2 separate regions of the Homo sapiens genome follow, and region 1 is linked to region 2. The links come from fine-mapping of genetic effects on gene expression. A gene starts in region 2. The other region holds a variant in brackets. All regions are shown on one strand. Distances are between the middles of the regions. Region 1 has its middle 22 kb from the start of CCDC32. Region 2 holds the start of CCDC32 (coiled-coil domain containing 32).

Evidence for each region.
Region 1: its variant is fine-mapped to the expression of CCDC32 in whole blood (TOPMed, PIP 0.97).

Annotation. Positions count from the first base shown.
Region 1 is chr15:40,536,863-40,548,727 of GRCh38, forward strand. It overlaps a transcript of CCDC32 not described here. Among named protein-coding and RNA genes, the nearest start is that of CCDC32, 22 kb to the right of the region's middle. RefSeq lists a silencer at 6,825-6,924 and an enhancer at 7,075-7,174. The variant T/C (reference allele first, on the strand shown) is at 5,820.
Region 2 is chr15:40,560,486-40,571,813 of GRCh38, forward strand. CCDC32 (coiled-coil domain containing 32) reads right to left here and starts at 4,557. Exons shown (of 4, transcript NM_001080792.4): 1 at 4,491-4,557; 2 at 2,287-2,542. The coding sequence starts at 2,530. RPUSD2 (RNA pseudouridine synthase domain containing 2) reads left to right here and starts at 8,814. Exons shown (of 3, transcript NM_152260.3): 1 at 8,814-9,458; 2 at 11,119-11,328. The coding sequence starts at 8,853. RefSeq lists enhancers at 4,956-5,005, 5,485-5,779, 8,756-9,085, 9,147-9,646, 9,396-9,445 and a silencer at 6,732-6,911.

The sequences.
Region 1 (11,865 bases), 23 kb before region 2:
AAAAGTTCCATGGGGCCACAGAGTCACCTAGGGTCGACTGAGGACAGCTTCACTTATATGGTGGCACTTGAACTGAACCTTGAAGTAGAAGAGGGATTCACCAGAAAATATGGTTTTGGCAAAGGGAATAGAGAACAAAGGCAGGTGGCATGAGATAGTCAGCTGCCAGGAGACGTGGTGGGCCTGGCCCAGAGCATGAGTGGAGCGAGAAGGGAAGGATTCTGGAGAAAGGAACCAAGAGAATCTAGAATTCTAAAGGACCACCAGGGGCTCCAGGCCTGGCAGGAGCAACTAACAGGATGACCCACCTTCCCCAACTTACACCACCTCAGGCGCTGGGCAGATGCTCTGTGACTTTATCAGTATCCCTGGGGAGTGGTGCCAGCCCCAGGTGCTGAGCTGGAGGGGGGATCACAGAGGAATCAAGGGACTCAAGGAGGGAAGGCAGCTGGAGGGAAGGGGCTTGGGCAGAACGAAAGAGGAAGGGGCTTGGCCCTGGGCTCTCATCCACTCCTGAAGCCCATGCAGGGAACAGTGAATGATGCAGTGCCTGTGTCCCAAGGTCCCAGCCTCGTGTGGGACCATCGGGGCACTAGCAGCCTTCCTGTCTCCTACCCCTTGCTCTGGGGGCCACGGGTACATGAAGGTTTCCAGAACCCAGGGAAGAGGCCAGAGGTTCAGTAATAGCTCTACAGGAGCATAACTAGAGAGTGATGACCAACTCCCAAAATACAGAATGTTTATTTTGAGCTCCACAATACATGTCAGTCAGAGAAAGGTTCGAGTCTCAAAAATGCTGGCTCTTGGCCAGACGCGTTGGCTCATGCCTGTAATCCCAGCACTTTGGGAGGCTGAGGTGGGCGGATCACTTGAGGTCAGGAGTTCAAGACCAACCTGGCCAACATGGTGAAACCCCGTCTCTACTAAAAATAGAAAAATTAGCCAGGCATGGCAGTGGGCACCTGTAATCTCAGCTACTGGGGAGGCTGAGGCAGGAGAATTGCTTGAACCTGGGAGGTGGAGGTTGCAGTGAGCCGAGATGGTGCCACTGCATTCCAGCCTGGGTGATAGAGTAAGACTCCGCCTCAGAAAAAAAAGCTGGAGCTTCAGTAATGCTGACCACTTTTAAATATATGTAATCAGCACTCATTTCAAATAGTCTTTTAGCAGCATGCTAACTTATGACTACAAGGTCTGCGGTCCCCTCTCCTGCCAAGTGTCCCCTTCCCCTGTACAAGTGGCCCAGAGGCAGTTCTCCAAGGGGATTTGGGGACTGTACTCCTGTATAAAAGAAAGCCTGTGGTGCTGCTGTGTTAAGTTACCCACCTATTGGCTGGTGAGTGCCCCCTTCATGTCTTTCCTGAAGGTAGATTTTCAGTAAATAAGAAGACCACATTTTTTATTCTGAGGCTATGGTCTTGTTTTCCATAGCAGTGTGTCCCAGAAAGCTCGAGATCTCTTGCATGGCCATGATTTGAAAGTCTGGAAATGGGATCCACTGGTAAGCTATGTTCTCCATGGAGCTCACCTGAGGCTGCCCTGCACCCCTCGCCTCTCCCTCAAGGGGTCACAGGGCACCTGTGGGCACCTCTTTCTGCTGCCTGTATGTCCGCCCCAATAGGAGAAAGAGGGGGCATAGAGGGAAATGAGTCTCCTTCACTGGTTCGAATTAGCGGGAAGCCTGTGAGTCCAAGCCCCCCTCAAATTCAGGCAACGACCAATCCGGCTTCCCTTTCTGTGCCCTTGTCAGAGAAGAGGCCGCTGGGCCCAGGCCTGTCCCTTTCCTCCAACCTGGCAGGCATGGGAAGCAACTGTGGAGGAATTTTAGAGCTGGGAGAAGCAGAGGGAGGATTGGAAAGCCTTTTATTTTCTTTGAACTTTTCCATTTAAAATATTTCTATTTTTAAAAGAATAATTTGGTTCTTTTTAATTTAGCATGTTTTCCTTAGAGCAATAAAGGCTTTTGCAATATGGAAAAGGTGACATTTGATCTGAAGGAGTCTGGGGGAGCTCTGAGTATAGGGAACTGACCTTTAGTACCCACCCATGAGCGCTGCCAACTGGGGGCCTGAGGTCTAGTGCTTGCCACAGGTGGGCTCACCGCAGGAGCCTGCTGGTGACCAGCCTGTCCCTCTTCCCATGGGTTCTCTAGCTGGCTCTGACTAAAGCCCTGTCTCTCTCTTGGCTCTCTCGCCAGCTGTCCCACTTCTCAGCTTCTCCCTTTCTTCATTCAGCCCAGCCCAGAAGCCCTGAGGGCTGGGCCAGAGGGAAGTAGTTGTTGCTGTTTCTCCCCAGCTCCCGCTCAAACCTGACACCACAGAAAGGTCAATCCCACATGGTTCTGCACATCCCTGCCTGGCCCGCCCTGGCTGTTACCATGACGACTGCTGGGCTGGAAATGTCCTTCGCCACCTCTGCTCAGCACACTGGTGGCTGTCCCACGCTCCATCCTCAGAAAAGCTGCTGCTGCCAGGGGTTCTGGAGTTACAGGGCCTATGGGAATAAGACAGACCGACAGAGACGAGGAAGATAGACAGATACAGTCAGAGGCACACACTAACAGAGTCAAAGAGAGACAGGCATACATAGGAGCACCGAGAGTGCGAAGGTGCGAGGAAGTGAGGTGTCGACACAGCCTCAGCCGTGCAGGACTGCAGGAAAAATAAAGCAAAGTGGAGCCTGAGACAGAGACAAGAGACAAACGGAGGCACAGGGGACACGGGGGCCCGTGGCACCACAGCAAGAGGCCAGGCAGAGGAAGAGAGGAAAAGCAGAGACCAAGGCAGTCAGCTCTCCGCTGCCCCTGCTCCCATCCCAGGAAATTTCCTTGCCCAATAGGTCTCTCTTGGCCTCCTGCTCTCTGAGATGTCAGGCAGGGTCTGTCTGAGTTGATTTGTTGGCCAGGCTGTTCCTCTGGCTGGACAACATTTGCCACCTTAAGAGGGGCCCTCCCCTAATAAGAGTGATCAAACTGTTGCCACACACACACACACACACACACACACACACACACACACACCCCGCTCCTTGCCCTTGATTCCATGTCACCCCAAACTCATCATAAATACCTACTCAGCCTCACTTCGCCCAGGTGGTGAAATGGGCATTGGAACAGTGTGAAGGGTTGATTTTCAAATTGCGGCAAAATCTAGGGAATAAGTGTGAACCTCAGAGATGATGATGCCCCTGGAGGTAATGAATGGGCAAGAGGAGGGAAAAGACAGACTGAACAGTGAGTACCAGACAAGAGTGTGGGGCCCAGAGGGTGGGAGAAGGGATCAGGGAAGAGAGAGACAGGCTCAGAGCTCTGACTAGGGCAATCCAGAGGAGTGGTAACAGGAGGGCTGGGCCAACTGGATTGGCCTTTAGTGCCTGGCAGGGAACACTGCCTCTAACATCAGTGCCATGATTTCCCATCTTTGAAGTGTCTCCAAGGCTTTGAGGGAGGCTTCTCAGGGTCTTTGAATTCTTTGTCGTTCTTCTTAGCATTTTTTTCTTTTTCTTTTTCTTTTTTTTTTTTTTTGAGGTGGCGTCTCGCTCTGTTGTGCAGGCTGGAGAGCAATGGCGTGATATCGGCTCACTGCAACCTCCGCCTCCTGGGTTCAAGCTATTCTCCTTCTTCAGCCTCCCGAGTAGCTGGGATTACAGGCGCCTGCCACCATGCCTGGGTAATTTTTTGTATTTTTAGTAGAAACAGGGTTTCACCATGCTGGCCAGGCTGGTCTCCAACTCCTGGCCTCAGGTGATCTGCCTGCCTTGGCCTCCCAAAGTGCTGGGATTACAGGTGTGAGCCACTGCACCCAGCCCAGCATTTTCTTCTTAGAAAATGATTAGGCTGTCAATACAGGAAACTCTGGGGCCGGGCCAGTCTCTCATCTATCCTAACCTTGACCACAGTGTGAAAGGACAGTAGAGTCAGTGCCCCTAATGTCACCATGTTCCAAGCTCACATATGAGTGTTGAACAGGTGCCAGCCTGGAGCGTCCATTGCCCTGGTGCCCTCAGTCCAGAGAGCCCAGTGAGAAGCTGGGCCAAGAAGGAAGACTTGAACCCAAGAGAGCAGTGTGTGGACATTCAGACTAGGCTGGGCTGAACTCACCCCCGGGGAGAACCACTTCCCACACTGGGCCACAGAGACCAAAATGTCAAAACCAAAGGTCCCGCACAGCCCTGGAAGGCGGATCCTGGCCTGGGCGGGAAAGAGACTGTGCCAGATGCTCACGCGCTGCCTCACATCCCTCCAGCCCATTTCTGTGACCAGCCGCAGCTGCAGCGGATGCTTCTGGTACATGCTCAGTTTCCCTCCTCTCTCCTCTGCGTGAGGCTTTTCTTAGCCCCTGCAGGGCTGCCTGAAAGTGGCAGGGGCTTAATACCTCCAAAGAGCAAACCTCAACCAATGAAGGATGGGCACTGGTGGAACTGCAGCCCAGATGTGCCCCGTCAGTCAGTGGCAAAATTCTGAGCTGTAATATTTTTTTTTTTTTTTTTGAGACGGAGTCTCGCTCTGTCACCCAGGCTGGAGTGCAGTGGCTCCATCTCGGCTCACTGCAACCTCCGCCTCCCGGGTTCAAGCAATTCTCCTGTCTCATCCTCCCAAGTAGCTGGGACTATGGGCACACACCACCAACCCGGCTAATTTTTGTATTTTTAGTAGAGACATGGTTTTGCCATGTTGGCCAGGCTGGTCTCGAACTCCTGACCTCAGGTGATCCACCCGCCTCAGCCTCCCACAGTGTTGGGATTACAGGCCACCGCGCTTAGCCTAAGCCATAATCTTTATGTCTCCTCAGAGTGATCCCAGGGCGACAGCCCTAACTACCCACAGTGGACCTACTCAACACAGGGAGCTGTCTCATTCTCCTCCCTCCCTCACTCCTGCTCACCCCCTAAAATCAGCCACCTACATACAGGTCCTTGTCTCAAGGTACACGTTCAGAGAACATAAAACAGCACAAGAGCGACCTTTTTGTGATCTTCCAACCCAAGAGTCTGTCCCTCAGGGTTGAGCTAAGATAAGAACTGTTGGAGGGCTCTGCCTCTGACCACTGACTGGTAGGTGATCAGGTGTTTGTCATTATTATCTAGGGAGGAGAAAGAAGAACTCACCAGCTCTCCCTCCCAAATGCTGGGGAGACCAGGGCTGACTTAACAGCAGCAAGCCCCCATAGGTCTCCAGTAGCCAACCACAGATTTTCATAATTGGAAAGGACCTTAGGGGTGACCTGATCCAACTTTCTACACAATGCAGGAATCCCCTTTACAACCTTTCTGACATCTGCTGACACACCTCCAGTGACAGGGAATTACTATCTTCTACAAGGCCACCCTATTGTTGAACAGCTATTAGAAAGTTCTTAACACTGAATGGTAATTGGTCTTCCTGAAACTCCCTGCCATTGGTCCTAGTTTGTCCTTTGTACTTCAGTGTGTCTCAGCTTTCTACCCAATACTCCTTCAAATATTTTAAAGCCAACCGGGTCTCTCTTAAATCTCTTTTCTATGGAAAACAATCTTATTGTCTTGTCCTGTCTTCAAATAACTCGATCTGAGCCTGCTCACCCTGGACCCCTCCTCTAGGGAGCATTGCAGTTTGTCGATGTTCCTCTGTAGGAAAAGACCCTGTTGCAAGAATGGCACCACCTTGAAGCAAAACTGCCATAATGACTGATGTTTGACTCCTGCATACCAAGGCATTCCTGTGGCAAGGTCAAGAAACAATGCCTGGGCCGGGCGCAGTGGCTCATGCCTGTAATCCCAGCACTTTGGGAGGCTGAGGCGGGAGGATCACGAGGTCAGGAGATTGAGACCATCCTGGCTAA[T/C]ACGGTGAAACCCCGTCTCTACTAAAAAATACAAAAAATTAGCCGGGCATGGTGGCAGGCACCTGTAGTCCCAGCTACTCAGGAGGTTGAGGCAGGAGAATGGTGTGAACCCGGGAGCAGAGGTTGCCACTGCACTCCAGCCTGGGGGACAGAGCGAGACTTTGTCTCAAAAGAAAAAAAAAAAAAAGATGCCTGGCCAGGTGGGGTGGCTCATGCCTATAATCCCAACACTTTGGAAGGCCAAGGTAGGAGGATTGTTTGAGCCCAGGAGTATGAGACCAGCCTGGGCAACATACTGAGACTTTTCTTAAAAAAAAAAAAAAATTAGCCAGGGGTATAGTCACAGCAAACTCAGGAGGCTGAGGAGGGAGGACAGCTTGAGCCCGGGAGGTTGAGGCTGCAATAAGCTGTGATAATGCCACTACACTCTAGCCTGGGTGACAGAGCCAGACTCTGTCTAAAAAAAAAAACAAAATGGAAAAGAAAGAGAAAAAAGAAAAGAAAGAATGCCTGTAGCATAAATAACCCCTCATAAAGATGCTTATCTAACCTCCCCAGTGGTCATGAAACTTGCAATAAAGTCTGAGGTGTGACCAGCTGCACATGTTTTCCCCTAAAAACTTGTTATACAAAGGATACTTTCTGGAGGGCGGGCATGGAAACCACCATCTCGTGACCAACCAAGGTATGGCTTCTGTGCATAAGTTTCTATTAAGCATTTATCTCTGAGAAACTAGATTCGTCAGCCTCTCTCTCTGTTTTGTTTTTGTTGTTGTTGTTGTTGTTTTTTTGAGACAGAGTCCCACTCTGTCGCCCAGGCTGGAATGCAGTGGCATGATCTTGGCTCACTGCAACCTCTGCCTCCCAGGTTCAAGAGATTCTTCTGCCTCAGCCTCCTAAGTAGCTGGGAGTACAGGCGCACGCCACCGTGCCCAGCTAATTTTTGTATTTTTAGTAGAAATGGAGTTTCCCCATATTGGCCAGGCTGGTCTCAAACTCCTAACCTCGTGATCCACCCACCTCAGCCTCCCAAAGTGCTGGGATTACAGGTATGAGCCACTGCACCCGGGCTTGTCAGCCTGTTTCTTTGGCCCCTCAGCTCTCTTGGCCTTTAGGGGTAGGTTTGCATAGACCTGCTCACTGCAGAACATCCTCTTGCAATGTGGTGCCCAGACGATGCTTTCAGAGAGGCATGACCACTGCAGAATATATTTTTACACTACTATGTCCCAGGTACACAGGTACATTTCCACTATTGATTCCTAGAATTATAACTTTTTTTTAGCAGCACATAACACTGCTGACTCCATTGAACTGTTAAGACACTGAACACCTGTTTGGGGTTTTCCATACCACTTTCCCCTTTCTTCAGCCAACAGCAATCCTCTTTCACTTCCCATTCTCATATGGTTCTGGTGGGACTGTTTACCACAGTATCCTGTACCCCTAACCATAGATCTTGCCCTTGTCATAGTCAGTGCTCCAATGATGAGCATGTGACCCAGGCCAAGCCAATCTGAGTCCCTCCCCTGGAATGTATTTATTTATTTGAGACAGGATCTTGCTCTGTCGCCCAGGATAGGGTGCGGTAGGGCAATCATAGCTCACTGCAGCCTCAACCTCCTGGGCTCAAGCAATCCTCCCACCTCAGCATCCCGAGTAGCTGGACTACAGGCATGCAGTACCACGCCAGGCTAATTTTTAAATTTTTTTTTTGTAGAGACGGGGTCTCTTTCTGTTGCCCAGGCTGGTCTCAAACTCCTGGGCTCAAGTGATCCTCCCACCTTGGCCTCCCAAAGTGCTGGGATTGTTAAGCCTAAACCACTGTGCGGAGCCCCCTGGCATCTATTATATGGGGTTGGAAAGTGTTATCTTTCCTCTGGACTTCCTAAACTGGAATCATGTCAGCCCAGAGCTCCCTGTGCTATACCAACACACAGAGAGAGTCAACAGTGGGAGGAAGAGAGGCTAAAGATACTGCTGGAGTCCTGAGGTCCAGCTAACTGAAGCCAGCTCTATATGTCTTAGACTAGAATTGAGTCCGGCTTGGATTTTTTTTTTTCAACAGCCTTGGAAAACTTTCCAGAGTCTGGCTTCTTGGCTTCTGTCACTAGAACAAACTAATAAATACTCTGTTCTTCTCTGTCCTCTAGTTGTGTAGTTAATTTCTGATCCCAAATGAAAGATTTCACATTTATCTGTATCATGTTTCATACTTTGTCCCATCACTCTAGTCTATAGAAAAATTTTAGAATTGTTATTCTTTTATTCAATTACCTACTCCTCTCACTTTTGATAAGGTTACCTTCTATTCACTCAACCAAATCATTGATAAAGATGTTGAGCTGAACAGAGGAAAAAGAAACCAACAACATGTCAGTTTATCAATCCAAGAGTTTACCTTTGGGATGATTGTTCTAACAACTGTGGGTCTCCTCTACCATACTCTTACCCAATGTACACTCCGCATCCTGTCTGCCTTGATCAGGCACCATGCTGAAGACCACACTGCACCTTGGCATTCTGCTAAGCCAATATTTGATGGTCTCATCCCCAAAGGATGTAAGATTAAAGAGCCAAAACTGGTCCTGGAAATATCTGTTCTTTAAAATGCTCATAAACTCTCAGTAACCTATCTGCTTTCTTCTGCACACATACACACACACACACACACAATCCCTCTCACCTTTGCCTCCTCCCTTTCTACTTATCTGCTAAAGAAGTAATTTTTAAAAGTGGATTACGTCAAAATGAAGGGAGGAGAGAGTCAGTTTGTTTGGGAAAAGAAAACCTTTAGAGCAATGTGTGACACAACACTTGGGACAGAGGAGGTGGAGAGAATGGGGGGAGATGAACATCTCTCTGCCACACATTGACTAATAGGAATAGTACATTGAGGGCTTAGGAAAGGCTGGGGCTGGAGGCTAGGGAATCGAGGAGCAAAGGCCCACTACTGTTCCACTTTGGCCTGTAGGAGGTGGTGTGGGGTACCAGCAGAGAGCACAGGCACTGGAGAGCTAGGCTTGGCTCTCCATCCTGGCACCACCACCTGCTAACCACCCACTACTACCTGCTGAGAGCCTGCAGCTCCCAAGACAGACACTCAGGTGCCACACTTCCCTCCACTCAGTGACCAAGCCTCAGTGGTTCTCCTTGCAAATGCTCCCATATCCACTTCTCTCTAGCCTTGCCGCCACACCTCATTCATGTAACTATCATCTCTTCAAAGATTTATTCTGCCTCATTCTCTCTCTCTTCACCTTCTGAGGCTGGAATCACATGTATATTAGACTGTTATTGTCCCACAGCTCTTATAGGTTTTGCTTTGTTTTGCTTTTCCCCCATCCCAGTTTCTCTTTGTGTTTTAGTTCAGAGAATTTTTATTGACCAGTTCAAGTTCACTGGTTCTTCACCTATGCCTACCTACTGAAAAGCCTGTGGAAGCAATTCATCTCTAATATCATGTTTATTTCTAGCATTTCCATTTGACTTTATTTTTTCTTTTTCTTTCCTTTTTTTTTTTTTTCTGAGATAGGGTCTCACCCTGTCACCCAGGCTGGAGGGCAGTGGCATGATCTTGGCTCACTGCAACCTCCGCCTTCTGGGTTCAAGTGATTCTCTTGCCTCAGCCTCCCAAGTAGCTGGGACCACAGGCACGAGCCACCATGCCTGGCTAATTTCTGTATTTTTTGGTGAGATGAGGTCTCATGTTGCCCAGGCTGGTCTCAAACTCCTGTGCTCATGTGCTCCTCCTGCCTTGGCCTCCCAAAGTGCTGGTATTACAGGCATGAGCCACCACGTCCAGCCCCATTTCACTTTCTCTTAGTTTCCATGTCTCTGCCAAAATTCCCTATCTGTTCATGCAAGTTGCCCACCCTTCCCCACCAGACCCCATAGTAATTATAATTATTTTAAGTCCCTCTGTGATAGTTCCAACATCTGTGTCATTTGTGAGTCTGGTTCTGTTGATTCATCTTCTGATAATGGATTGGGTTGTTTTCTTCTTGTCTTTTTGTGTGTTTTGCAATTTTTTTTTTTTTGAGACAGTCTTGCTCTGTTGCCCAGGCTGGAGTGTAGTGGGGCCATCTCAGCTCACTGCAACCTCACCCTCCCAGGTTCAAGTGATTCTCCTGCCTCAGCCTGTGGAGTAGCTGGGACTACAGGCACACACCACCAACACCTGGCTAATTTTTGTATTTTTAGTAGAGATGGGGTTTCGCCATGTTGACCAGGCTGGTCTGAAACTCCTGACCTCAGGTGATACACCTGTCTCGGCCTCCCAAAGTGCTAGGATTACAAGTGTGAGCCATAGCGCCTGACCTATGTTTTGCAGTTTTTTAACTGAATGCCCATGGTGTATAAAACAGCAGAGACTGAGGTAAATAGTATCTGTATCTGGGAGTGGGGCTGCCTCTTCTGTCAGCCTGTTGGTCTGGGGGGTTGAGTCAGTCTTGTTAGGAATTGGACAGGGTTTGGGTTTGGTTGTGCTCTCATTACCTTCAGTGCACCCCAGGTTTCAAATTCCTCTAGTGGTGGGCTGCTTAGAGTGGGGACTGGGGTGTCAGGGCTTCCTCAGTGCTGCTGTCCCACACTCAGCTTTTCAGCTGGCAGAAGACTTCTGTTGCTTGTGATCTGGTGCCAGGCTCAGGCAGGGCAGGGCAGGGTTGATTCTGTTACCCTGGCCCGGCTTCAGTCTTAAATAGGTCCTAGGCACCCGAGCTTCAGCAGTGGGACTTTCTCAGTGTTTCTGTCCCTCTTCCCTATGGAAGCCAAACTCTGCCTTATATGTGGTTCATCTGGGATTAGCCAAAGTTCTTGCCCTCCCCACAACAGAGTGGACCTTCGCTTGAATCTTCAGCCCAGGACAGTTTCCTGCTTCTGCCCCTGGGTAGGGGGTTTCTGCTTCTAGTCCCAGGAGCAATGGGTCTTTGCCTGTTCAAGAAGGGCAAGAAGGTTTTGACACCTCACCAGAAGCAGATAAGTTTTGCTTTTATTCCTCCCACTGAAGCAAAAGTTTGTTACCCCTCCCGCCATGGCTTAAGGCTTTTGCTTAAAGGAGAGGATTGTGGAAGTTGAGGCTTTTTGCCTTCCACCAGCAGCCGCCTTGATCAACCTCTGCATGCATGCATCACCAAGGAAGAACAGTCCCTCCCTTTCCTGACCTGTTCCCACTTTTCTCCATGAACCCCAGGGGAGGCCTGTACAAAAAAGGTTGCCTTTGCACGCACTCTCGTGTCTAGAATCCTATTCAGCTATTCTAAACTGATATGCTAGGCCACATGTGGACTTTACAAATTTGTTAACATTTTTATTGTCTTTTTCTTACCCACTTGTAAGACAGCCACATCTTTGCCAAAGTTGAAACAGTTGATGGGTCACTATCTCTCCTTCTATTTCCTCTCACTCCTATTCATTTCTATGAACTCAGCTCCCCTAACACTATCTCTCCTTTATTTGGTTGCCTTGTGGCCTTGGCTTTCTGATGGGCTCAAGAAAAGTTATGATTTTGTACCTGCTTTTTCACATTGTTAGGACGGAAGGGACATTTTCTTGCAGTATTCTACATCCTAAGTGGAAAAAGTCCTCAAGTACTATCATCTCTTTCTTAGACAACTGCAACCACCTCACAGCTGGTCTCCTGTGTCCAATTTTGCCCCTCTCCCTACTGTAGCCAGCATAAGTATTAAATTCTGCAACCATCGCAGACTAGAGGGGGCTGCAAAATAAAATACTTAAAAATTAGCTACTTAAAACCTGAAGCTTAGCTTATGGTGCATTGGTTATCTATTGCTGAGTAACAAATCAACCCAAAACTTAGTGGTTTAAACCATGACATTTATTGAATCTGTAGGGCTTTGCAGGGACAGCTTGTCTCTGTACCACTTGGTGTCACCTGGGACAGCTTAAAAACTGGGGGATGAAATCATTTGAATTACTTACTTATATGTCTGATGCCTGGGGTGGGAAGACTCAAACAGCTGGGACTCCCTGGGCTTCTCTACCTCTCTGTGGCCGACTTCTTACATGCCGGCTCAGAACTACCAAG
Region 2 (11,328 bases):
TCCAGAATCTACAAGGTGCTCAAACAAATCAGAAAGAAAAAAACAATCCCATCAAAAAGTGGGCAAATGACATGAATAGACATTTCTCAATGGGATTTGAGAAGATATACAAATGGCTAACAAACATATGAAAAAATGCTCAAAATCACTAATCATCAGGGAAATGCAAGTCAAAATGGTGAGCTACCACCTCACCCCAGCCAGAATGGCCACTATTAAAAAGTCAAAAGACAATAGATGTTGGCACGGATGTGGTAAAAAGAGAATCCTTATACACTGCTGATGGGAATGTAAATCAGTACAACCTCTATGGAAAACATATGGAGATTTCTCAAAGAACTAAGAGTAAATCTACCATTTGATCCAGCAATCCCACTACGAGGTGTTTACCCAAAGGAAAAGAAGTCGTTATATCAAAAAGATACCTGCACGCATGTTTCATAATTCATAATTGCAAAGATATGGAACCAACCTAAGTGCCCATCGAGCAATGAGTAGATAAAGAAAATATGGAATATATACACCATAGAACACTACTCAGCCATAAGAAATAATAAAATAATGTCTTCTGCAGCAACTTAGATGGAGCTGGAGGCCATTATCCTCTAAGTGAAGTAACTCAGGAATGGAAAACAAAATGCCATACGTTCTCACTTATAAGTGGGAGCTAAGCTATGGGTACACAAAGGTATACAAAGTGGTATATTGGCCGGGCACGGTGGCTCACACCTGTAATCCCAGCACTCTGGGAGGCCGAGGTGGGTGGATCACGAAGTCAGGAGTTCGAGACCACTCTGACCAACATGGTGAAACTCTCTATCTACTGAAAATACAAAAATGAGCCAGGCGTGGTGGTGGGCGACTGTAATCCCAGCTACTCAGGAGGCTGAGGCAGCAGAATTGCTTGAACCCGTGAGGCGGAGGTTGCAGTGAGTCGAGATCGTGCCACTGCATTCCAGCCTGGGCAACAGAATGAGACTCCGTCTCAAAAAAAAAAAACAAAACAACAACCAAAAAAAAAACAAAACACAAAGTGGTATACTGGACTTTGGAGATTCAGAAGTGGGGAGGTTTGGAGAGGGGTGAGGGATAAAAAACTACACATTGGGTACAATGTCCACTACTTGGGTGATGGGTGCACTAAAATCTCAGACTTCACCACTATACAATTAATCCATGTAGCCAAAAACCGCTTGTACACCAAAAGCTATTGAAATAAAAAAATTAGGGCCAAGCGCGGTGGCACACGCCTGTAATCCCAGCACTTCAGGAGGCCAAGGTAAGCCTTATTCCCAGGTTTGGCTTTGTGAAACATGGATGAATCTCATGGTTGTTCCACAATAAAAGGATATTACAATTCTAAAGACTGCCCCTCACCGCCCTAGACTGATATTTCTTTTTCCCCTAGCATGGGACAATTTGAATCTCTTTCCTGTGTTTGGAATCTCTCTAGATACTTATACTATGGCCGCAGGACAGGGTACTGAAAATGTGTTCAGGAAATATTTTTAAAATAAAATGGCTAACAAGAGGCAGAATGAATCTTATGTCAATATGCTCCCATTCTCAACAATCAATCTATTTATGTAAGTTTTTCAAACTCCAGCATCAGAAATCCACATGTAGCCCTGGGGCCATCACATTTTCTTGCAGGATGGCATAAGGTTTAACACTTTTGAGTTATTTGAATATACGGGCAACCAACAGTAGGCAAGAGGGTTCTACAGAATGCCAAGAAATCAAACACAGAATTTAGATGAACTGGGCAGAGGCAGGAAGTGACAAAAACTGTTTTAAGAGCTGTTCGGGTAGTCACGGCGGCTCATGCCTGTAATCCCAGCACTTTGGGATGCCGAGGCAGGTGGATCACCTGAGGTCAGGCATTCGAGACCAGCCTAGCCAACATGGTGAAATGAAACCCCATCTCTACTAAAAATACAAAAAATTAGCCGGGCATTGTGCCAGGCGCCTGTAATCCCAGCTACTCGGTAGGCTGAGGCAGGAAAATCGCTTGAACCCGGGAGGTGGAGGTTGCCATGAGCTAAGATCACGCCACTGCACTCCAGCCTGGGCAACAAGAGTGAAAGTCTCAAAAAATTAAAAATAAAAATAAAAAAAGATCTGTTCAAGGAAAAGGGGGCTGCTTCCCAACAGCCGGCTTGAAACATCCCTTGGAATTATATCTGACAGATACGTGTGACAGGAATAACAACAACACAAAAGAATAGGAAACCAAGTTTGATGTAACAGAACTTCAATATGCTTCCCTAGAGCCGTCAAACTTACCTAGAGATGCTAAATACACTTCTGAATCCTGCAAGGGAGCCCAAGGCTTTACAGCTGGCTGGACAGCAAAGTCAGCCACCTCCCTCTGGCCTTCACCTTCAGGGCAAGAATCCACAAAGGAGTCTGAGAATGCATTGTTGGCACCATCTTCTTGTTCAGGATTTGGCAGACAGGAACAAATTTCAGCCCAGAGATCCTGGCCAGATCTTGTGGCTGTAGAGTCAGCGCTCTCAAACATTTTCATTTGGAATCTGAGCTATAAAACAGAAGCTCAAGTGAGTAAGAACTGGCTTTAAGAATACAGCATAAGGTTGAGCACAGTGGCTCACGACTGTAATCCCAACACTTTGGGAAGCCGAGGCAGTCAGATCATTTGAGGCCAGCAGTTCGAGACCAGCCTGGGAAACATGGCAAAATCCCATCTCTACTAAAAATACAAAAATTAGACAGGTGTGGTGGCACATGCCTGTAGTCCCAGCTACTCCGGAGGCTGAGGTAGGAGGATCACCTTAGCCCAGGAGATAGAGGCTGCAGTGAGTGGTGATCACGCCATTGCACTCCAGCCTGGGTGACATTGCGAGGCCCTGTCTCACAAATAAATAAATAAAATAAAAATAAAAATGGAATTCCTACAAGCCATACACAAAAGGCAGATACTGTGATTCCACTTATATAAGGTACCTGAGTAGTCAAATTCATAGATACAGAAAATAGGATGGTGGGAGCTGGGGGCTGGGAGGTAGAAAGAATGGGGAATTACTGTTTAATGGGTACACAGTTTCAGTTTGGGAAAATGAAAAAGTTCTGGAGGTGGATGGTAGTTATGGTTGCACAACAATGTGAACACCACTGAATCATACACACAAAAATAGTTAAAATGGTCAATTTTATGCTACATATATTTTAACACACACACACACACACACACACACACACAAATCTGTAGGGCATTTCCAGGTTGGACAACCAGCCTGCACTTTTCTCCAAAGATCTCCAAAATGCAACAGTTCTATCTCCAGTCAATTAAATTCTGTTTTTTTTTCTTTCTTTCTTTCTTTTTTTTTTTTGAGACAGAGTCTCGCTCTGTCGCCCAGGCTGGAGTGCAGTGGCGCTAACTTGGCTCACTGCAACCTCCGCCTCCCGGGTTCACGCCATTCTCCTGCCTCAGCCTCCCAAATAGCTGGGACTACAGGCACTCGCCACCACGCCCGGCTAATTTTTTGCATTTTTTAGTAAAGACGGGGTTTCACCGTTTAGCCAGGGTGGTCTCGATCTCCTGATCTTGTGATCCGCCCGCCTCGGCCTCCCAAAGTGCTGGGATTACAGGCGTGAGCCACCGCGCCCGGCCCCTAAATTCTGTTTTCAACAGAACACAGACTAAAGGTCTTTCCACAGTTCCATATACATGAAGATCCTGCTTGGTAAAAAGTGTCTGTCAGAGAGTACTGTTACAATGCAAGGGCTGTGTGCTCAGCGCATGCAGTTCAGCCGTATGTCTCATGCTCTTATTTTAATACAATCACTGAAAGGTAGGTATTTTCACCATTTTACAGATGAAAAAACAAGTTCAGAAGGGTAACTTGCTCTAGGGCACATTACTGATATGTGGGGAATCCTTGACAGGAAAACCAGATCTGTGCTGCTCCAGAATCCATGTTTTTATCAAATACCATCCTGCTTGTTTGGAAAATATAACGAAAGCAGCCCAAGCACGGGCAGGTAGGAAAAGCTACGCAAAGAGCCTGGAGGCTTTTATAACTATCTAGGCATATGAGACAGGCTGACACCTTCTTTCAAGAGGAGACTTAGAAATCAGGAAGGCTGCCTGAGGCAAGGTCTGAATAATGCCAGGAGACAGAGCCCAGCCAGCGTAAAGGCCGGAAGTAAAAGGGACAGCTATGACACGGCGGTCCTGGGTGAACTGATGTCTAGCGCTACAGTGAACCCCCAACCCGAATTCGTCTAAAGCCACCCAAAACCAAAACTTTGCTCACACCAGAGCCCCGCATGGCCCCTTACCCCAGGGCAGGGCGTCCAGAACCACGCAGGAAATTCCGGCGTCCAGATCCCAGGCCTCAGTCGCTCAGGTCTCTAGGGCTGTCTGGACGGGATGAATCAGGTCCCAAGGCCTCTATGTGGTATTCCGGGGCCGGGCCAGAGTGGGAGATCCAAAACGCTGGGCACCCCAGCCCCTCCTCACTTACCGTAACAGCTGCCCAGTAAACGCTTGGCTCAGCTCTGTCGCCTGTAGCCCGGAGGAAATCGGGAGGGGCGGAGTCCCCTAGTGACGGAGCCCAGGAGTCCTCCAACTACCTTCCCACCCGACGATGTTCTGTGCGTCGATTGGTCGAGAGGAGCTCAGCGTGGTGAAGAAGTGAGGAGCAGCAAGAGGCGAGCGGTGGACGGGGCTCTGGTTGCCGGGAAACGGTGGAGTCACGTGCCCTGAGCATTGCCCCTCCCCTCCCGAGGGCCAGGTTGATTCCTTGCAGATCCAGGGTTCCAGTCCCTGCTTGGATAGGGAAGTCGTTTCCAAGACTTTTGACTTTTCCTAGTCGCCGGAGCCAGTTCACCTCCTCCACAACTTTCTCTGTCGGTGTTTGTCTTCTAAAAATTTCACCCCTTCGTTACCCAAATTAGAGCACTTCGGCGGCTTCTTTCCTTACTCTCCCAGGAGACTCGTGTCTCATTCATCAAATTATGAAGCTTTCCTTCATTCATTTAGTCAATAGATACCAAGCACCTGCTGTGTTCTAAGCATTGTGTTAAGCGTGAAGTTAAGACACATATGACTTGATATAAGTCCTGGAGATCCTTACAGCTTAGTAGTGTAGGAAGGGGGTCCGCCATGGAGGCATAAAAGTTTACAAATAACAGTAAACAGTGATAGACAGCCGGGCGCGGTGACTCACGCCTGTAATCCCAGTACTCTAGGAGGCCGAGGCAGGTGGATCACCTGAGGTCAGGAGTTCGAGACCAGCCTGGGTGAAACATGGTGAAACTCTGTCTCTACTAAAAGTACAAAAATTAGCTGAGCATGGTGGCACATGCCTGGAATCCTAGCTATTCGGGAGGCTCAGGCAGGAGAATCGCTTGAACCGGGAAGGCAGAGGTTGCAGTGAGACAAGATCGCACCACTGCATTCCAACCTGGGCAACAGAGCAAGACTGTCTCAAAAAAAAAAAAGGAGGGGGGCGTTGAGGATTATAGAGTATATGATGGAAGTGTGGCCAGAGTACATAAAGGAGAGAGTGGTCATAAGAAGTGTGTGTCAGAATGCTTTGTTGTTGTAGTTGTTAAAGGAGATGACCTTTGATATCCTTCAGGGGATAGATACCAGCTTGTTCATTGAGATCGACCCCTCCCCATCCCCAGCTTCCAGGATCAACACCAGTTACTCTCTCCCAAGAAACACGTGATGAAAGACATCAGCCAACCATCAGTAGCCAAGTAACTTGGCTGAGGAAATAGTTCTCACTCCAGCCTGGGTGACAGAGCAAGACTCCGTCTCAAAAAAAAAAAGAAAGAAAGAAAAAGAAAACAACAACAACAAAAACAACATAGTTTTAGGATTACAGATGTGAGCCACTGCGCCCAGCTAAAATACAATTTAAAATTCAGTTCCTGGCCGGGCTTGGTGGCTCATGCCTGTAATCCCAGAATTTTGGGAGGCTGAGGGGGTGTGGATCACCTGAGATCAGCAGTTCGAGACCAGCCTGGCCAACATGGTGAAACCCTGTTTCTACTAAAAATACAAAAATTAACTGGGCGTGGAGGCGCATGCCTGTAATCCCAGCTACTCAGGAGGCTGAGGTAGGAGAACTACTTGAACCCAGGAGGCGGAGGTTGCGCCACCACATCCGGCCTGTAATCCTAACACTTTGGGAGGCCAAGGTGGATGGATTGTTTGAGCCCAGTTTGAGACCACCCTAGGCAATGTGGCAAAACCTCGTCTCTACTAAAAATACAAAAAATTAGCCAGTCATGGTGGCACATGTCTGTCGTCTCAGCTACTAGGGAGCCTGAGGTGGGAGGATCACTTCAGTTTGGGAAGTCAAGGCTGCAGTGAGCCAAAATCGTGCCACTGCACTCCAGCCTGGGTGATGGGAGTGAGATCTTGTTTCAAAACTTGTTAAAATTTTAATTAATTTAAATTTAATTAGCCACATGTGGCTATTGTACAGCACATGGCTAATGGTGATCCTATTGTATAGCACAGGATTGGAGAATATTACATAGTTCACAGAACCTCAAGGTGAGTGGAGAGTCAGGCTTTAGGTCTATACAGCCAGGGACAGTATCTGAATCTCACTGAGAGACTGCTCAGGGAACACCCCACAGCCACTGAACATCTATAGCTGGCATTATTCGTCGATTGGGTACTTGACACAAGAACCTCCCCGACTGTTGGCCTCCCAGATTAGATGCCTCCAATGCTACCTTGTTAGACACGGATTTCACACTGAGCCTGCTTCCGCGGCTGTGTGCCTCTGAACCAAAGCCTCTGTCTAAGAGATAGAGCCCAGGTCAAATGCCTATGTCCAAGCTGCAAGAGAGTGTGGGAAGGCTCTGGCTTCTACCTTTTGGGGGCAGTAATGAAATGTGAGAAATTCCCCACCCAAAAGAAGGGTGTTCGGAAGATGCTGGATGTTTACAGAATATGACAAATGTCTACTCTACATGGTCTATGCCAGTGCTTCTCAAGCTTTAATATGCAGAAAAATCACCTGAGGATCATGTTAAAGTGCAGATTCTCATTTAGTAGGTCAGAAGGGGAGGAGGAACAAGATTCTGCTATGTTTTCTGTCTCCACAGTTTTGCCAGGCACTAGTCCAAGTATTTTACTTGAATTAACTAATTTAATTCTCCCACCCCAATCCTATGGAGCAAAGAGGCTAGCTAAGAATACATACTTTTCTTTTGGATAAGGTTCTGCTTTCACTGTAAATATCTTAATGAAATGATGCACTTGAGAGATGATGTCCCTCCTGTGAAGTAGTTTGGTTCTAACATACCCCACAATCAATGGAGAATTCTACCTCTTATTTCTGGAGGTAGTCAGGAATCAGACTTTTCAGCATATGGAGTTCTGCAGCTGTGGATACCTCAGCTGCAGTCCCTCAGTTAGTTTGGTGAGACTAATGACTTGAAGAAGGAATTTAGCTAAAAAAGATTTCCCTTTCTCCTCTCCAGAATACAAATGCCTAGGATAAGAATTAGACTGTCTTTTTTTTTTTTTTTTTTTTGGCAAACTAACATTGAAATGCCTCCTTATTTGGAAGAATCCCACTCTGGATACCAAAGAGGGTTAGATTCTTGGCCGGGCGCGGTGGCTTACGCCTGTAATCCCAGCACTCATAATATAAAAATTAGCCAGGCGTGGTGGTGCGTGCCTGTAGTCCCAGCCACTCAGGAGGCTGAGGCAGAAGAATGGCTTGAACTCAGGAGGCGGAGGTTGCAGTGAGGTGAAATCGCTCCACTGCACTCCAGCCTGGGCGACAGAGCAAGACTCCGTCTCAAAAAAAAAAAAAAAAAAAAAAAAAAAGAGGGTTAAATTCTTCCATCTCCAGGCACCCTGGAAGTGAGGGCTCAGAGCAATGAGGTTTGGCTGATGGAAGTCCTCCCCTGCAGGACTCTTAACCTTGGAAGAGGGACACAGAGACACAGGGAGATTTAGGGGTCTCCAAGGGGTGGCAGGGCTGCAGGAAAAAGAGTCCTTTGGCACAACATAGTTTCTTGTGTCTACTGCATCCCAACTGGGTTTCTTCCCTGACATGTCTGAAGCCAGGCTCTCAAAAGGCTTGGTTTCCCTTGATTTGGCCCTTTTTCTGAGCCTAGTCTCCAGTTGTCTTGTGAATTCTATGAGGCACTAATATACTTTCCATAATTCTATCTCTGATGAAATTAGCCAGAGTTGGTTTATTTTGCACTTAAGAACCCTCGCCATATATCCTCTGATCTATTTGCAGTTTTAATCTCAGGATGGAAGCATGTGGGAGGCGAATGGGGATCACTAATCCTTCTCATGCTGTTAGGGGGAAACACAGGTGTGAACACATTGCTTCTGGGGTGCTTGTGTGTGTTTTAAATACATATATAACAATCTTACTGAGATACAAGTCACATACTATAATATTGACCCTTTTAAAATATAGAATACAGTGGGTTTTAGTATATTCGCAGAGTTTAGCAATCTTTATTCTGGTTGTTAGTTTTTGTTTTGTCTTAAATAAAGCTCCTTTCAAGCGTTTCTTCAGACCCAAGGGACTACTCGGAATTTACACGACCTACTCCTGTCATGGCCTTTACACGGAGCAATTCCAAGGGTTTCCTTTATAAATAACGTCGTATCTCCCTAATAGGAAGACGTCTGAGTAAGGTCACTTTTGGTGAGACATTTACAGTCTCTCATCTCTAAGCTCACTCAATTCACCTAATTTAATTCGAGCAGCTCACTCATTCGCTCACTTATCGCAGACCCCGCCTCGGGACTGGGCCTCCCTGATTCGCTGGGGCCGAGTGACGTCCTCAGATCGCGACCCTGGGAGTGGAGTGGGGGCAGCGTGGTTATGTGGCTGGACCGCCGCGGATGGCTCAGGGTTCTTGGACATTGGCGCTACGACCTTAGGCGCCCTAGCTTTACCAGGACTTGGAGTGGCGATAAGGGCCCAATGGCAGAAACAGTGTCTACCCAGGTTGGGACAGAGGGCGGGCTGAGGGCTTCGCATCAGCAAAACGGTGACGCTGGTGGCGACGCGAAGGTTGAGCTGTCCCCCGGGCCCCCGAAGCCGGCTGGCCGGGAAGTGGAGCCGGCCCCAGTAGGCGGGGAGCATCCCTCGGCTGCAGCCCCAGGCCCGGGCAAGCATAAGAAGCGGCGGGGCGCAACCAGGGAGCGTGTCGTGCCGCCCCCGAAGAAGCGGCGGACCGGGGTGAGCTTCGGAGATGAGCACTTTGCAGAAACCAGTTATTACTTCGAGGGCGGCCTGCGTAAGGTGCGGCCCTATTACTTTGACTTCCGGACCTACTGCAAAGGTCGCTGGGTGGGCCACAGCTTGCTGCACGTCTTCAGTACCGAGTTCCGAGCTCAGCCCCTGGCCTACTATGAGGCCGCGGTCCGGGCGGGCCGCCTGCAACTCAACGAGAAGCCGGTGCAGGACCTCAACATCGTGCTCAAGGTGGAGTCCTGATGGGGCTGGCCAGAAGCGGGCGAGGAAAAGGGGCCGGGTTTTGTTTTGTTTTGTTTTGTTTTTTAGTCTTAGTAAAGCATAGGTACTGGATTAAAATCATGGCAATTCTAAAGCGTTCTCGCTTTCATTTGGAACACTATTTTAGCCCGTTTCCCACCTCCGCAAGTGGCCAGGGTGTCTGTGCTTCAGGACTCAGCCTGTTTATCCTCTTCCTCAAGGCAGCTTCCTTGTTTCCAAGGGACAGAAGTTGGAATTTTCATAATTCCTTTAAACACCGTCTTGTGGCAAGGGCACTGATCACTTTACCCTGCGTTGTAGATCTCTGTGCAAATAGTAATAATAGGGGCTATCATTTATGTCTCTTTACTGTGTGCTGGGCACAAAGTTAAACATTGTATGTCCACTAATTCTAATGACAGCCTTGTGAAGTAGGTATTGCCACTCCATTTTACCTCTGAGGAAACTAAGGAAACTCACAGGGGTAAGGCTATCAACAGTGCCACTACCAAAGCCTATGTTCCTATAACTACTACTTAAACTATTTAACATAGAGTTATGAGATGTCAGGGATAGAGACTAGAATTGTTTAGCCCAGTGCTTTGACTCCTTTAAAATTCCATCACATCTATGAGGTACCAGACACCCCTGTCAGAAGTAACACTGTTTACCTCTCAGTAACACTAGTTTACCATGGTTGTGAGTGGAGAAAAGGCGATTACAGCATTTGGGGAATGGATGGTTTTGGAGTAACTTGTTCCATTGATCAATCGATTTGCGTCAATATATCATACATTGACGAATTCCCTCTCCTATCCCAATTTCTAAAGCACAGATCTGGTCTAACCCTCACATTCCACAGGAAGCAGAGACCCAGAAAAGATAAATGACTTGCCCAAGAGCATGTAGCGAGCCTGTGGCAAATCCTGGTCTAGAGCCCATATCCCTGGACTTAAGCCTTAGTTTTGTTTGTTCAAGATCGTAATAAGTGATGATTTATGGAGGTTTTTTCCTCCATTAAAAAAATTTTACCTTGATTATTTATTTTTTTTTTTTTTGAGACAGAGTCTTGCTCTGTTGCCCAGGCTGGCGTGTAGTGGCGCGATCTCGGCTCACTGCAACCTCCGCCTCCCAGGTTCAAGCGATTCTCCTGCCTCAGTCTCCCAAGTAGCTGGGATTACAGGCATGTGCCACCACGCCTGCTAATTTTTGTATTTTTAGTAGAGACAGAGTTTGACCATGTTAGCCAGGATGGTCTTGATCTCGTGATCCACCCACCTCAGCCTCCCAAAGTGCTGGGATTAGAGGCGTGAGCCACTGCGCCCGGCTAAAAAATTTTACCTTTTAAATACCTTTATTGTAGAGAAAATACAATTAGCAAAGCCAAAAAACATTCATAATCTAACCACCCAGAGATAACACAGTTAACATTTTTGCATATGTCCTTCCAGTACTTTTTCAGTGCCAGCTATCTGCCTGTGTCTGTCTGTATTTTTACAAAATGAGATCACACTCTGCACACTGCTTTTTCAGCCCAAGATGTGCTTTCACCATTTTTCCATGTCAGTGAGGAACAGGGGAAGCTGGATATGAAGTTGACTGATTACAGGCTGCGGTCCCTAGGCTGACTTATTACCTATGTCTTTGACAGGACAATGATTTCTTGCGGAACACAGTGCACAGGCATGAGCCACCAGTCACAGCAGAGCCCATTCGCCTGCTAGCTGAGAACGAAGATGTGGTGGTTGTAGACAAGCCTTCCTCCATTCCCGTTCACCCCTGTGGCCGCTTCCGACACAACACAGTTATCTTCATCCTAGGCAAGGAGCACCAACTCAAGGAGCTACACCCCTTGCATCGG